Linked DNA regions of Homo sapiens. The protein of the gene in region 4 purifies or fractionates together with the protein of the main gene of each other region. This does not show direct contact. Each region holds a gene or a part of one and is shown on either strand. Other genes may lie near its edges.

Region 1 (3,500 bases), on a different chromosome or scaffold from region 4:
CAGCCCATCAGAACAGAAATGTACCCCACCCCACACACCTGGGCCAGTTATCTTCTCTCCTGGGAACTTGGAAATGAGACACAGAACTAAGACAGTAAAGGTTAGGACAGTAAAGACAACTAAGCGTTGGGGCTCAAATAATGTTAATTAGAGGCTAGAAAAACCAAAGCCACTTAAGAAATAAATTTTTAGAGGAGCAAGAATTAAAAACATTGCAAAGGGACTGAAGTATGCAAAGTAATATGGAGCAGAAATGTGAGGAAAAACAGACGAAAGACCAGGCAGACCCAGGTGGAAATGTGGATGAAAGGGCTGCCTGAAAGCCTTCAGTCCCAGTGAAGGCAGGCTGAACTGATGTGGATGGGATTTCATGGGATTCTATATTTTTACAAGTGCCTGTTTACTTAAACTAGGATGAGTGGACTTCTGCGTCTTGCAATAAAATGATACCAAAGACCAAAGTATTAAAACACATAAACACCATCACGAGCATTAAAGCATCTGATGCTACACCCATCAAGTCTTTAGGTAGTCGGTCCCTTTTGAACAGTCTCCTGGTGTCCTCCCCAACAAAGAAATCAGAAAAATTTTCTTCCCTAGCTCTTTGCAGTTGGGGCCAAGTTTTGTGACCTAGGCTCTTCCTGTCAGACACACACATAGAGTTCAAATCAGAAACGAGCAAGGTAAGGAAACAGGCTTGGTGGGATATCTGCTTAAGATATTCAGCTCTCCACTGGTTTTCCTGGTGAGAGCAGCGGCAGAGCTTCTGGGTTTCAGCAGTGTGGGTTACAAGATAAAATTCCAGAGTAGAAATGGCATCAGTGCCAGTGGTGTTAGCAGTTATCTCAGACTCTACTTTCTGGCAGCCTCACAAACTGAAGCATCTGGTGCTCAGCTTGGACTGGCAGCAGTGAGTGCTTCCCATTAGGCCATTTCTCAGCATGAATTTGGGATGTTCTGTCTTAATTCCAAGCCTGTTTGTTCCGCCTCCCAATAATTCTATGAGCCACTCAGTCTCCTTTAAAGAAAGTTGTGTTGGCCGGGCGTGGTGGCTCAAGCCTGTAATCCCAGCACTTTGGGAGGCTGAGGCAGATGGATCACCTGAGGTCAGGAGTTTTCAGACCAGCCTGGCCAATATGGTGAATCCCCATCTCTACTAAAAATACAAAAATTAGCCTGGCGTGGTGGCGCACGCCCATAATCTCAGCTACTAAGGAGGCGGAGACAGGAGAATTGCTTGAGCCCGGGCAGTGGAGGTTGCAGTGAGCTGAGATCGTGCCACTGCATTCCAGCCTGGGTGATAGAGCATGACTCCATTTCAAAAAAGAAAGAAAGTTGTTTCTTAAACGTGCCAGGGTAGCTTCTGTTATTTGTAATTTATAAAATCCTGACCAAGCCAGCATTTTAGGCCACAAAACTGTTCCTAAGACCAGTCCATTACCTCTGTGAGCGCAGGAACTTGATGCACCCTTGGTGTTTCTAGAACACCTTGACACCAGGACTGTAAGGGTTCTACCATATTTTTATGTGAGGGGGCCGATACAGTTAGCCATAAACTGATAAACTAAGAAATTATTCTCTGTCTAGGTGCCATCCTTGGTAGGAAGCTTTATTAGAAGCCAAAATAAAGAAGACTATGCTGGCCTAAAAGAAGAATTTCGTAAAGAATTTACCAAGCTAGAGGAGGTAATTATTTCTCCTAGCTATCATCAGAGTAAACGATAACTATATCTACCCTCCTTTTCCTCCTATTCTTTTCTTTATATTCCCACTTTCCAAGTCACTTTAAGGTAATTAGGAAAATTCCCCTAAACATTTTTGTTTACAGCAGACTGCTGTTATAAAGCAGAAAGCTGTCCTGCTTAAGATATAAATCAAAACACCTAAACAGACTTTGTCATGGGCTTGCTTTTAAAATATTCTGCTAATGTTAAAATAACAAGGAAAAAGGAAATTGTACCCACGTTTCCACAAGTTTTTATGTATCCAGTTTTCCATGCTTGTTTGCAGTCCTTGTCCATATATTTAAAAAAAATTAATATAGCTCTAATCAGAGCATAGATATCATTCTGTGTCCTGCTTTTTTTCCTGTGTCCACTTAGTATTACATACTAAATATTTCCCACCAGAAAAAGTTTGCAATGAACAGTACAGACACTTGAGGGAAGCCCAGATGTATTTTACCTTCTTTTGGGGACAGCTGACATTTGGGCCTTGGAGTCTGTCTCTTGGCCTTGAAATATTTCATTCATGCTAAGCCTGAAGTTTTTACTGACAGAAGACATAGTTCCTGTCTTTCATGGGAATGCATTTTAACATTTTATCAGTAAGCATGATGTTTGCTGTAGGTTTTTCAGAAACCTTTTTTTCATTATAAAGTTCTCTTCTATTACTAGTTTGCTAATTTTTAAAAAAGTCATAAATGTTGAATTTTATTGAATGGTTTTTCTGCATCTGTTACATCTATTGAAATGTTCATAGAATTTTTTCCTCTTAATCTGGTGAATATGGTGCTATTGACAAATTTTTTTTTTTTTAATGTTTAACCATCCTAGCATTCCTAAGATAAAACCTACTTGTTCTCTATGGATTTTTATATGTACTGTAGAATTAGCTAATGAATGATTTTTGTATGTGTGTTCATAAATGAGATTGGCCTATAAATTTTCTACTCTTATAGTATCATTATTGGCTTTTGGTTTCAAGGATATTCTGACCTCATAAAATGAGTTGGGTAACTAACCTGTTTTTCTAATCTCTGAAACCATTTGGTAGGGACTAGCGGTTTCTTTAAAACATTTGAGCCTGGTGTCTTTAACAGGGGTAGATTTTTCATTACTAGTTTGATTTCTTTAATGGTAATTGGTTTTTTGGTTTTATATTTCTTCTTGAATCAGTGTTGGTACTTTTATATTTTTCTGCTGAACAGTGTGGGAGCTGGAAAGTAAGATGCAGTCCATATTCTTCAGATAATTAGTTTAGTAGTAGACAGAACACAGTAGGTAGATATAAGCAATCTAAAATGCATATTATGCATTGAAAAAAAACTATGGAGGTTATTTATAAAGGGCAAATTAGTTTGGTGGTTTAAATAGCCAGATAATATTCTCAATCACCCCCTTTGGCAAACCCTGTAACCAATTCGCCTTCTTAAAATTTCAGAAACATACAATTTGTGTTTTGTTTTCAAATGATTGTCATCTGTTTAGCAGTTAATCCAGTCTATTTCCAGTATATTTTAAGTACAAATGCTTTTGCACTTACAATGGGGTTACATCCAATAAACCCACCGTAAGCTGAAAATATCATAAGTGGAAAATGCATTTAATAAACCCAACCTACAGAGCATCATAGCTTAGCCTAGCCTGCTTTAAATGTGCTCAGAAAACTTCCATTAGCCTGCAATTAGGCAAAATCATCAAACATAAAACCATCAAACATAAAATATTTATAAAGTGTTGAATATCTCATATAATTTATCGAATACCTGCATCCAAAAG
Region 2 (3,500 bases), on a different chromosome or scaffold from region 4:
GCGGAGGTTGCAGTGAGCCGAGATCGCGCCACTGCACTCCAGCCTGGGCAACAGAGCGAGACTCCGTCTCGAAAAATAAAAAATAAAAAAAATAAAAAATAACAACAACAACAACAACAAAAATGAACTCTGACTAAGTCTCACATTCTATATAAGCAAAAATAAAATGAATCAGACTTAAGTGTAAAAAAAAATTATAAAATCTTCTGGATCTAGAGCTAGGCAAAAAGTTATTAGGCTTGACACCAAAAGCAAGATCCATTAAAAACAAACAAACAACAAAAAAAAACACTCACTGAGCGCTGGGTGCAGTGGCATGCACCTGTAATCCTAGCTACTTGGGAGGCTGAGGCAGGAGAATTGCTTGAACCGAGGAGTTGGAGACCAGCCTGGGCAACATAATGAGATCCCATCTAAAAAAAAAAACTCACTAAACTAGACTTTATAAACTAGACTTAATAAATTAGACTTTATAAAAAAATTTTTTTAAATTGCTATATGGGCTGGGCATAGTGGCTCACGTCTGTAAAGTAATCTTAGCACTTTGGGAGGCTGAGGTGGGAAAATCACTTGAGCACAGGAGTTGGAGACCAGCCTAGGCAACACAGTGCCATCCATCTCTATGAAAAAATTTTTTAAATTAGCTGGGCTTTGTGGCGTGTACCCATAGTCCTACGTACTTGGAAGGCTGAGGCAGGAGGATCACTTGAGCCCAGGAGGTTGAGGCTGCACTGAGCCGTGGTTGCACCACTGTGCTCCAGCCAGGGTGACAGAGTGAGGCCTTTCTCAAAAAATTAAAAAAAAAAAAGGATTAAAAAATTTTGCTCTGCAAAAGACCCTTTTAAGAGGATGAAAAAAAGCTACAAAGTGGGGAAAAACATTTGTAAGCCACATGTCTGACAAAGGAATAATACTAGAATACATACAGAACTCTGAAACATTGAGCTGTTTAATACGTAAAACTCACTTTTGTGAGTTTTTGTCAAGGTTAATGAGCTGCTCCTCCCAAAAGCACTCCTTGGCTTCTGAGCAAAAAAAGCCAGACACAGGCCAGGCACGGTGGCTCACGCCTGTAATCCCAGCACTTTGGGAGGCCGAGACGGGCAAATCACCTGAGGTCGGGAGTTTGAGACCAGCTTGACCAACATGGAGAAATCCCATCTCTACTAAAAATACAAAATAAGTCAGGCGTGGTGGCACATGCGGGTAATCCCAGCTACTTGGGAGGCTGAGGCAGGAGAATCGCATGAACCTGGGAGGCGGAGGTTGTGATGAGCCAAGATTGCGCCATTGCACTCCAGCCTGGGCAACAACAGTGAAACTCTGTCTCAAAATAAAAAAAAGAAAAAAAAAAGATCTGTGCAGTTTACTGTATGTAATTATATCATAAAGCCCCATGATCTTTCTACCACTCGACATAACCACCCTGAGGAGTATGTGACCTCTGAAAAATACCAACTACAAAGAACAAACTACAAACGACTACAAAGACTAGTAAGGACTACAGTAAAAAAAAAAAAAATTATTTTTTTGAGACGGAGTTTTGCTCTTTTGCCCAGGCTGGAATGAGGTGGTGCTATCTCGGATCACTGCAACCTCCACCCACTGGGTTCAAGAGATTCTCCTGCCTCAGCCTCCCGAGTAGCTGGGATTACAGGTGCATGCCACCATGCCCAGCTAATTTTGTATTTTTAGTAGAGATGGGTTTTCGTCATGTTGGCCAGGCTGGTCTTGAACTCCTGACCTCAGGTGATCCACCTGCCTCAGCCTCCCAAAGTGCTGGGATTGCAGGCATGAGCCACCGCACCCAGCCCAGTAAAGATTTTGAACAAGATACTCTATATTGGTGGAAGCTTCCATTCTCAGCATCTTGTTTTGTTATTATTATTATTATTATTTGAGACATGCTCTCACCCTGTCACTGAGGCTAGAGTGTGGTGGCATGATCACGGCTCACTGCAGCCTCGACTTCCTGGGCTCAAGCAATCCTCCTGCCTCAGTCCCCCAGGAAGCTGGAACCACAAGCACATGCCACCACACCCAACTAATTTGTAAAAAGTATTATCTGTAGAGATGGGGTCTCCCTATGTTGCCCAGGCTGGTCTCAAACTTCTGGGCTCAAGCGATCCTCCCACCTCAGCCTCCCAAAGTGCTGAGTTATAGGTGTGAGCCACTGTGCCTGGCCCATTTTCAGCATCTTGAATGGAACCACTGGTGTGTTTGTAAGTATGTACAGAAAATACATAAGAAGTGATAATTTGGGTTTAGAAAACTCTCTCAAGAAGACATAGAAGGGCCAGTGCGGTGGGTCACACCTGTAATCCCAGCACTTTGGGAGGCTGAGTTGGGAGGATCGCTTGAGCCCAGCAGTTTGAGACCACCTGGGGCAACAAAGTGGAAATCTGTCTCTACCAAAACAAAATACAAAAAATTTAGCAAGGCATGGTGGTACACACCTGTAATCCCAGCTATTTGGGAGGCAGAGGTGGGCACATCACCTGAGACTGGGAGGTCAAGGCTACAGTGAGCCGTGATCACGCCACTGCACTCCATCCCAGGTGACAGAGTAGCCTGAAATACTTGGAGTCAGGAGGCATCCATGCTGCAGGTTTTCTTTTGGAATAGCTGGACAGAGACCCCAGGAGAAGAGTGCCTAGGAATCAGGGATGGGGGCTGAGTCAAGACACTTGTCCCTTGATAGGATTACTAAAATACATACAAGGCTAGATATTAGTTTTCTAGGAAGAAAACCTTTGAGGTAGCCAGGTGCACATGGTGGTTTGTGCTTGTAATCCCAGCTACTCAGGAGGCTGAGGAAGTAGGATTGTTTGAGTCCAGTAATCCCAGCATTTTGGAAGGCCAAGGCAGGCGGATCACGAGGTCAGGAGTTTGAGACCAGCCTGGCCAACATAGTGAAACCCCATCTCCACTAAAAATACAAAAAATTAGCTGGGCGTGGTGGCAGGTGTCTGTAATCCCAGCTACTTGGGAGGCTGAGGCAGGAGAATTGCTGAACCCAGGAGGCGGAGGTTACAGTGAGCCCAGATCGCGCCACTGTACTCCAGCCTGGTGATAGTGCGAGACTCCGTCTCAAAAAAAAAAAAAAGAAAAAGAAAAACATATTTAAGTGTGTGTGTGCGTGTGTGTGTATAAAACAAAACTTGATGCTTCTTTTTGCTCAGGGGACTACAGAATTACAGAATGTCAGGTTAGGAAGCTGCATACTCAGGGTTCATAAGAGACCAAGTGAAATTTCACACACGTATGAAGGCTGCATACTTCAAATCACAGCCTTATTGGGTTTAGGGATCAGGCTCAAACTCCAGCCTCTTTAGGAATCACAGAATCTTCTCCCAAAGGTAGAGCACATCTTGTCCAAACAGCCTATTTTACAAACAAACTAAGGTCTGCGGAGGTTCAGTAACTTGCCTAAAGCCACACTAAGTTAGGACTGGTAGGACTGGGATTTGCTTTCCCGTCAACTAACTCCCAAATGGAGG
Region 3 (3,500 bases), on a different chromosome or scaffold from region 4:
CAGGAAAGACCTCAAAGAGAAAGTAGCATTTAATGTGGACCTTGAAGGATGATTAGAAGTTTTGTCAGATGGTGGAGGTGAAACACTCCATCTTAAGCAGAACAAATATGAAAAGATAGGAGAGCATGAAATATCAATGAGGAATAACCCAGTTTCACTAGGTAGGGAAATAGTAAGAAACAAGTCTGGAGAGGGAAGCTGGGACTCTGCTGGGCTGGCGAGTTAGAGCAGAGTTCCACGTGAAGTGAGGCATCGTCGAGGATTTAGTTGTCACTGTCTAGTGAAATGCATCTAAAAGAGCAATCTGACAGTGTTCTGTAGGGTCTGCTTAGCAATGACTAAGTTACGTACACACCATTCTTTGAATTTGACTTTGAATTTGGTATGTAGAACCTGAAGTTATTGTGTGCCCAAATTCATAGTGAGAAGATGTGTTTATGCATAGGTCACACACTTAGTACGCATTAGTATACAATAATGGTGACATAGCACTTTGTTTAAGAGTGTAAACATGTAGCACGGAAGTTGAGGTAACTTATAGTTATGGTTTTTGTCTCAGGTTGACAAGAATTCTACCTGCCCTGGTAGGGTGATCATATTGTTAGAAAAGGGTCTTCTGAGTTCTTCAGAGTTGCTCCAAGGCAGGAGTTTAAGGAAAGTAAACCATGGACACCCTGGATTAATTTTTTTGTTTGTCTAAAGTATTACATAGATTGTGGCTTTGAATAAATTACCTTTCTGGAAGCTCAGCCAAGCATAGTAAACTACAAGAGAAGACATCTAACTGTCACTCCTCCCTGGCCCCCACTGGCTCTCCTCCCTCGGCGCACACCTAATCCAGATGTGAAATTAAGTGCTTTCACACAGGTCCATTTATAAAGGAAATTAGGTGGGAGACTTGATTCCAGAGGGATCTTGACCTTATTCCCCAGTTTTCTTTATATTGATTTTAAAGCCTATATATTGGTTGAAAATCATTGGGAAAATAGTTGTGGAGAAGATAGGTAGTATTTTAAAATGTGACTAATGCTAGTTTTGATGGTTTAATAGTTTGGGTACTGTATTATTCTGTTTTATATTGCTACAAAGGAATATCTGAGCCTGGATGATTTATAAGTAAAAGAGATTTGTTTGGCTTATGATTCTGCAGGCTATACATGCATGGTGCTAGCATCTGTTCAGCTTCTGGTGAGGCCTCAGGAATCTTTTACTCATGGCAGAAGGTGAAGGGGGAGTAGACGTGTCACATGGTGAGAGAGGGAATGAGAGAGGCCAGGATCTTTTCAAGAACCAGCTCTCATGTAAAGGAACAGAGTGAGAACTCACTCATTACCATGGAGAGGTCACTAAGCCATTCATGAAGGATCTATCCCCATGACCCAAACACCTCCCACCGGGCCCCACCTCCAACACTGGGCATCACATTTCAACCTGAGATTTGGAGGGGACAAATACCCAGACTACATAAGGTAGTATAAGTCTAATCTATTACATTCTGCCACTGTAGGTATGATTAGTACCTACCAAATTTATACTGATACTAGCTTCTTCATAAAGATTCTCAGAAGAGGTAATTTAAGTCTTTCTTGCATTGTTTTTATAGTCATAAAATAACCTTAACTAATAATATACTTTCTCCTTTGTCTAAATTAAAAAACCCCCCTGCTTGAATTTAAGCCTTTCCTTTTCATTTCATCGTTTGAAGATACTATTGATTTTGATGGCAAATCATGGAATGAATTTTATACCTATGTTAGTCACTCGAAGTGTTTGGTAATTTAGTTTACCATGTTTTAGTCTAACATAGAAACACAATCTAATATTTTTGAATTCTCTTTCGTTAAGGCATTGTGTCCAGATCTGGCACCCTGACTTATGAAGCAGTTCACCAAACAACGCAAGTTGGATTGGGGCAGTCTTTGTGCGTTGGTGAGGGACTTTTGCTAAAATCATTTTATTGGAGTGTGGTGTCTTCATTGGATGAGTATAATAATAATTATTGATTTTATTATTTGCAAAAGATTTTGATACTCTTATGAAAAGGATGTTACGATCTCAAATTTAATTTGCTTAAGTGTAAAGTTATTCTGTAGTTGTTTCAAGATTCATGGTCCAAGATTTCATTTCTAGGTTGAAGAACTAACATCTTGGAACACGTGGCTCCCGAAGCACCTTGGTGCCTGAAAACATCACTTGGTTTGATTGCTCTGAAGAAATGGTTCCTTATATTAGGACTTTTGTTATCATTGCCATTATGTTCATCAGTGCTTTATAGTTACTGAATTCTTTGCCATTCAGTGTCTCATTCTTGAGGGAAGCCTCTCAGGTGCCTCTGAGCTGGAAAATTGTACTGTTAGAGCCTTATTGGTGAGAAAGTCAAGGTTGAGGAAGGTTCATTTCCTCAGAACCTCTCTTTTTATCACACTATACTGCCTCCCATTTGAAAAAGTAAAAATTACAAATTTTTACATTTTAAAATAATTTCATTATTTGTTGCCAAAAGCCAAGGCAAATTCCTCCTTTTCATATTAATAAATATTCTTTCAAGTTCTTAGAATACCTGTTAATGTTTTAGAATTATCTTTACGAAAAAGTAACATATAGCTCTGGAGTGTTTTTATTAAGATTCAAATTCATAAATTAAATATTGAAAACATTAATTGAGCATTTGTACATGCAAAGCACAATATAAGTGGAAGATACTTTTTAGTGTGACAGAGAATAAGAAAAGGTTTGAAACAGGCTTACCGATTCCTTCTTTTCCAGCTTCAGTTTTGAATTTGTAAGTGGAGGATAATAATGCCTATCTCACAGAGAAGTTGAGAAAATTAGGAAATGACAGATCTAACGTGTGCCAAAGCATAGGACTTGACACACGGTTGGCACTTAATAAATGCCGGTTCTCTTCTTCCACTCCATTTTTCAGAGATGCAGTGAAAAGAAAGAAATCAATCCTGCCCTCAGTAAGTTTGTAATTTAAAAATAAAAAACGGCAGCCTGTCTGTAGGGAACATTTACTTTAACCCTGTCCATGAATTTGTTCTTAAATGTGGTGTGTAGTATGGCTCTGATATGCATGCTCTGTCATCATCCACTCTGGATCCAGAACACGAGCAGTCAGGGTACTCACTGTCACTCACTGGCACTTGTGTCTTAAAACTTGTGGGTGATTTATCTGCAGCATACTTCATCAAATAGTTTCTTTACTCAAAGAAATTTGTTAAATGTTTATTCTTTCCTCTGGTGTAACATCAGCATGCAACACAGATACACATTTTCTTAAAATGTTCATTTCTAAGGAGTTATCTGGGAATAATTTTGTGGGACAGAAGAGGCTTGATAAAGGAGCTAAAACAAAAAGAGGGTTGTCTTCGTTACAGCCCTAGAATATTCCTAGAATATCAGGAACCAACCACCATTTAGCATTTATATAATATTACCAACAGAAATAAATGTAGCATTTTGTGATTTTTTAAATATTAAATGCAAGAGCAATGATA
Region 4 (3,500 bases):
GCAGCCTTACTCCTAAAATTATCTTCACAGGTAGGCAAGATGGCAAGGTCAAAGAAGGTAGTCTCAGGTGGTGTTTATAGTTGTCCAGTGCTTACTTTGAAAAGGTGTTTTAGCTTCAAACTGCTCATAATTGGCATATAACCGGCGATTTGTAGCAGAGTGAGAGAATTAAGTGTTAAAGACAAATAACTATATACTATCTATTTTCCTCAGAATCCTCTTAATAAACTTTAAAAAATCACGTCATTCTGCAACTTTTTTTTTTTTTTTTTGGAGATGAAGTTTCGCTAGTCGCCCAGGCAATGGTGCAATCTCGGCTCACTGGAATCTCCGCCTCCCAGGTTCAAGTGATTCTCCTGCCTCAGCCTCCCAAGTAGCTAGGATTATAGGCGTGTACCACTACACCTGGCTAATTTTTGTATTTTTAGTAGGGACTTGGTTTCACCATGCTGGCCAGGCTGGTCTTGACCTCCTTACGTCAGGTGATCCGCCTGCCTTGGCCTCCCAAAGTGCTGGGATTGCAGGCATGAGCCACTGTGCCCGGCCTGCAACATGATAATTTAAGGGGAAAAATATATATATTTTTCTCCCAAAGTGTTGAGATTACAGGCATGAGCCACCACGCCCAGGGATTTTTTTTGTTTGTTTTTTTTGAGACTGAGTCTTGCTCTGTTGCTTAGGCTGGAGTGCAGTGGCGTGATCTCAGCTCACTGCAACCTCTGCCTCCTGGGTTCAAGCAATTCTCATGCCTCAGCTTCCCAAGTCGCTGGCATTACAGGAGTGTGCCACCACACCTGGCTAATTTTTGTATTTTTTTAGTAGAGATGTGGTTTCACTATGCTGGCCAGGCTGGTCTCAAACCCCGGACCTCAGGTGATCCACCCGCCTCGGCCTCCCAAAGTGCTGGGATTACACGCATGAGTCACTGTGCCTGGCCTGCGACATGATAATTTAAGGAAAAAAAAAATTATTTCATTCCTTCAGCTTTTGAGTGCTTGCTATGTGGCAAGCACTGTATTTAAAATTGGGAAAACAAATGAAAATAAGATAAACCTTGCTGTTTCTTGGTGGGTACACAGCCTACTTCCTGGGGAGACTGACAGATGATCTCTAGTATGTTCAGCACCGTGTGTGTGCTGGGGGATAGTGGTACAGGGTGCCGTAAGAGCATGTTGGCTGGCCTAAGAACCTAGACTTGGTTAGACAAGCCTTTGGGCAGGAACGGACTTCTGAATCTAGACCGGAAGTAGTTAGTAAAGATGGTAGGGAGAGTCTTTCAGTCAAAACACAGTGTACACATCTTAAACTTTCTTACCTGAACGTCAGAGTGACCTGAAACATTCAGTTCTTTGAAGTGGAATGAAGCAAAATAAATTTCTTAGTGACACATTTTTTGACTTCTTCCACTGAAGGGGTATGAACTTTAGAAAGTTTCATAATTAAGGGGAAAAGAAAGCAATATTGAATTATATACTTGGCTAGGCACGGTGGCTCACACACTATTATCCCAGCACTGTGAGAGGTTGAGGTGGGAGGATCATGAGCTCAGGAATTTGAGACCAGTCTGGACAACATAGACCCCCCCATCTCTACAAAAATAAAAAATAAAAATAATAATTATACACTCTACTTACGTTGTGCTGCGTATCAGAGCTGTAACCAAAGCAATTGAATGCTGTTTTAAGTACTACTATCCTTTGGGTAAGGGGTAAAATGAGCCAGTGAGGCCTCTTTAAAACAGTATTTGAGTTAACCATTTTTCTATGAACTTACGTTGCATTGTTTTTAGAAAAATACTTGGTGTCAGAATATGAACTGTATTTAATATAGCATATGCTTTTTAAAAAATATTATTCTCTAAGGCAAGTACTTTTAACTTTATATCCTAAATAACTCTTTTTACTCTTGAACATTGGCCGGTCCTTCTTTCAGGATTCCCTGAATCGTTTGACCGTATCTTTAGAGAAGTGCTCAGTAAGTCGAGGGCTGAACCTGTCCAGTGAGTGGTGAGCAGAGCTTGATTCTCCACCAACCCATGGCTTAGCTCTGAGAAGACTGTTGAGTTGTGATCTTAATTTTCTTCTTTAAGCGATGGTAGTGCTATCTTCAAGGTTAGGCTTGAATTTGATTAAAGTAGAATTTTAAGAACTTAGTCAAATTATAGTTGTTCCAGGAGGTCAGTTTCATTCCTGTAAAATTTTACTTTGTAACCCAAGCTGCACTGAAGCTCTCTTAGGTCAACTCTGCCTAAAGAGGCACCTGATTATTACTGTTATTTTTTTTTTTAGGTTAAATCATTTCTTATATGAGCCATCTTTATGCTGCCTCCCTAAACCTCATCACCCCAAATTTGTCTTCAGAGGCACAGATTTTTTTTTCTGCAAGACAGACCAGTAATAGTTAAGTATACATTTGAAATATGCTCCAAAATTTTCTTTTGTGATTTAGGCTAAGTAATGTTAAAGCAGATAATCCAATCTCCAAAAGATGCACAAGGTGTTCAGATGAAGCCATCTTTGCTTAAATGGTACTGCTGTTTAAATGCGTCATCTCTATACATGATCTTCATTCTTTCCTGAGCCATGCACTATTTAAAGGTAGTGTCAACAGGTCAAACAGAAATTCTGGGAAAGTCTTTTGAAAGCAATGGTAATGAAAAGTGCTTCTTAAGAAGTAATGCTACTGCTTTTCTGAAATGTTGGTCTTCTGTTTTAGTGCGTAAATTCACAGAGAAACACGAATGGGTAACAACAGAAAATGGCATTGGAACAGTGGGAATCAGCAATTTTGCACAGGTATTGGATTATATTGAAATATTTGTCCCAGTGTGCTCTTGCATGATTTGCTTTATCTCTACCTTTTTAAAAGTGTTTAGGCTGCGTGAGGTGGCTCATGCCTGTAATCCCAACACTTTGGGAGGCTGAGGCAGGAGGATTGCTTGAGGCCAGGAGTTCAAGACCAGCCTGGTCAACAAAGTGAGACCCCGTCTCTACCAAAAGTTAAAAAAAAAAATTAGCCTGGCATGGTTGCTCATGCCTGTGGTCCCAGCTACTCAGGAGGCTAAGGCAGGAGGGTCGCTGGAGCCCAGGAGGTTGAGGCTGCAGTGAACCATGATCATGTCACTGCAAAATACAAAAATTAGCTGGTCTTGGTGGTGCACACCTGTAATCCCAGCTCGTCAGGAGGCTGAGACAGAAGAATCACTTGAACCTGGGAGGCAGAAGTTGCAGTAAGCCGAGATTGCACCACTACACTCTAGCCTGGGTGACAGAGTGAGACTCCATCTCCAAAAAAAAAAAGAAAGAAAGAAAGTAAGAAAACCAACCAGAGTTGAATTAAGTAAAACATAATTTAGTTAGGGCATTATGTGGTGTTTTAAGAGATGTTGCAAGCTTAACACTGAAAGTAGGAAACATGTCCTATTCAAGAAGGAAATGTGTGTGTTTTGTACTGGGCAATTAAGGAAAGAGGAAAAAGAAGAGCAGGGTGTTGCCACCATT

Evidence for each region. The genes of interacting proteins can lie anywhere in the genome.
Region 1: the proteins of GCSH (region 4) and GSTO1 fractionate together in Homo sapiens (co-fractionation; one large-scale study listed by BioGRID). This does not show direct contact.
Region 2: the proteins of GCSH (region 4) and ACSF2 fractionate together in Homo sapiens (co-fractionation; one large-scale study listed by BioGRID). This does not show direct contact.
Region 3: the proteins of GCSH (region 4) and SUCLG1 fractionate together in Homo sapiens (co-fractionation; one large-scale study listed by BioGRID). This does not show direct contact.

The regions. Positions count from the first base shown.
Region 1 is NC_000010.11:104,261,392-104,264,891, forward strand, and holds part of GSTO1 (glutathione S-transferase omega-1), read left to right. Parts: intron 1-1,587; coding exon 1,588-1,686; intron 1,687-3,500. UniProt on the Homo sapiens protein: Exhibits glutathione-dependent thiol transferase and dehydroascorbate reductase activities. Has S-(phenacyl)glutathione reductase activity. Also has glutathione S-transferase activity.
Region 2 is NC_000017.11:50,432,718-50,436,217, reverse strand, and holds part of ACSF2 (medium-chain acyl-CoA ligase ACSF2, mitochondrial isoform 2 precursor), read right to left. Parts: intron 1-3,500. UniProt on the Homo sapiens protein: Acyl-CoA synthases catalyze the initial reaction in fatty acid metabolism, by forming a thioester with CoA. Has some preference toward medium-chain substrates. Plays a role in adipocyte differentiation.
Region 3 is NC_000002.12:84,431,781-84,435,280, reverse strand, and holds part of SUCLG1 (succinate--CoA ligase [ADP/GDP-forming] subunit alpha, mitochondrial precursor), read left to right. Parts: intron 1-1,845; coding exon 1,846-1,929; intron 1,930-3,500. UniProt on the Homo sapiens protein: Succinyl-CoA synthetase functions in the citric acid cycle (TCA), coupling the hydrolysis of succinyl-CoA to the synthesis of either ATP or GTP and thus represents the only step of substrate-level phosphorylation in the TCA.
Region 4 is NC_000016.10:81,089,896-81,093,395, reverse strand, and holds part of GCSH (glycine cleavage system H protein, mitochondrial precursor), read left to right. Parts: exon of another isoform or gene 1-2,305; coding exon of another isoform or gene 2,306-2,399; intron 2,400-2,715; coding exon 2,716-2,795; intron 2,796-3,500. UniProt on the Homo sapiens protein: The glycine cleavage system catalyzes the degradation of glycine. The H protein (GCSH) shuttles the methylamine group of glycine from the P protein (GLDC) to the T protein (GCST).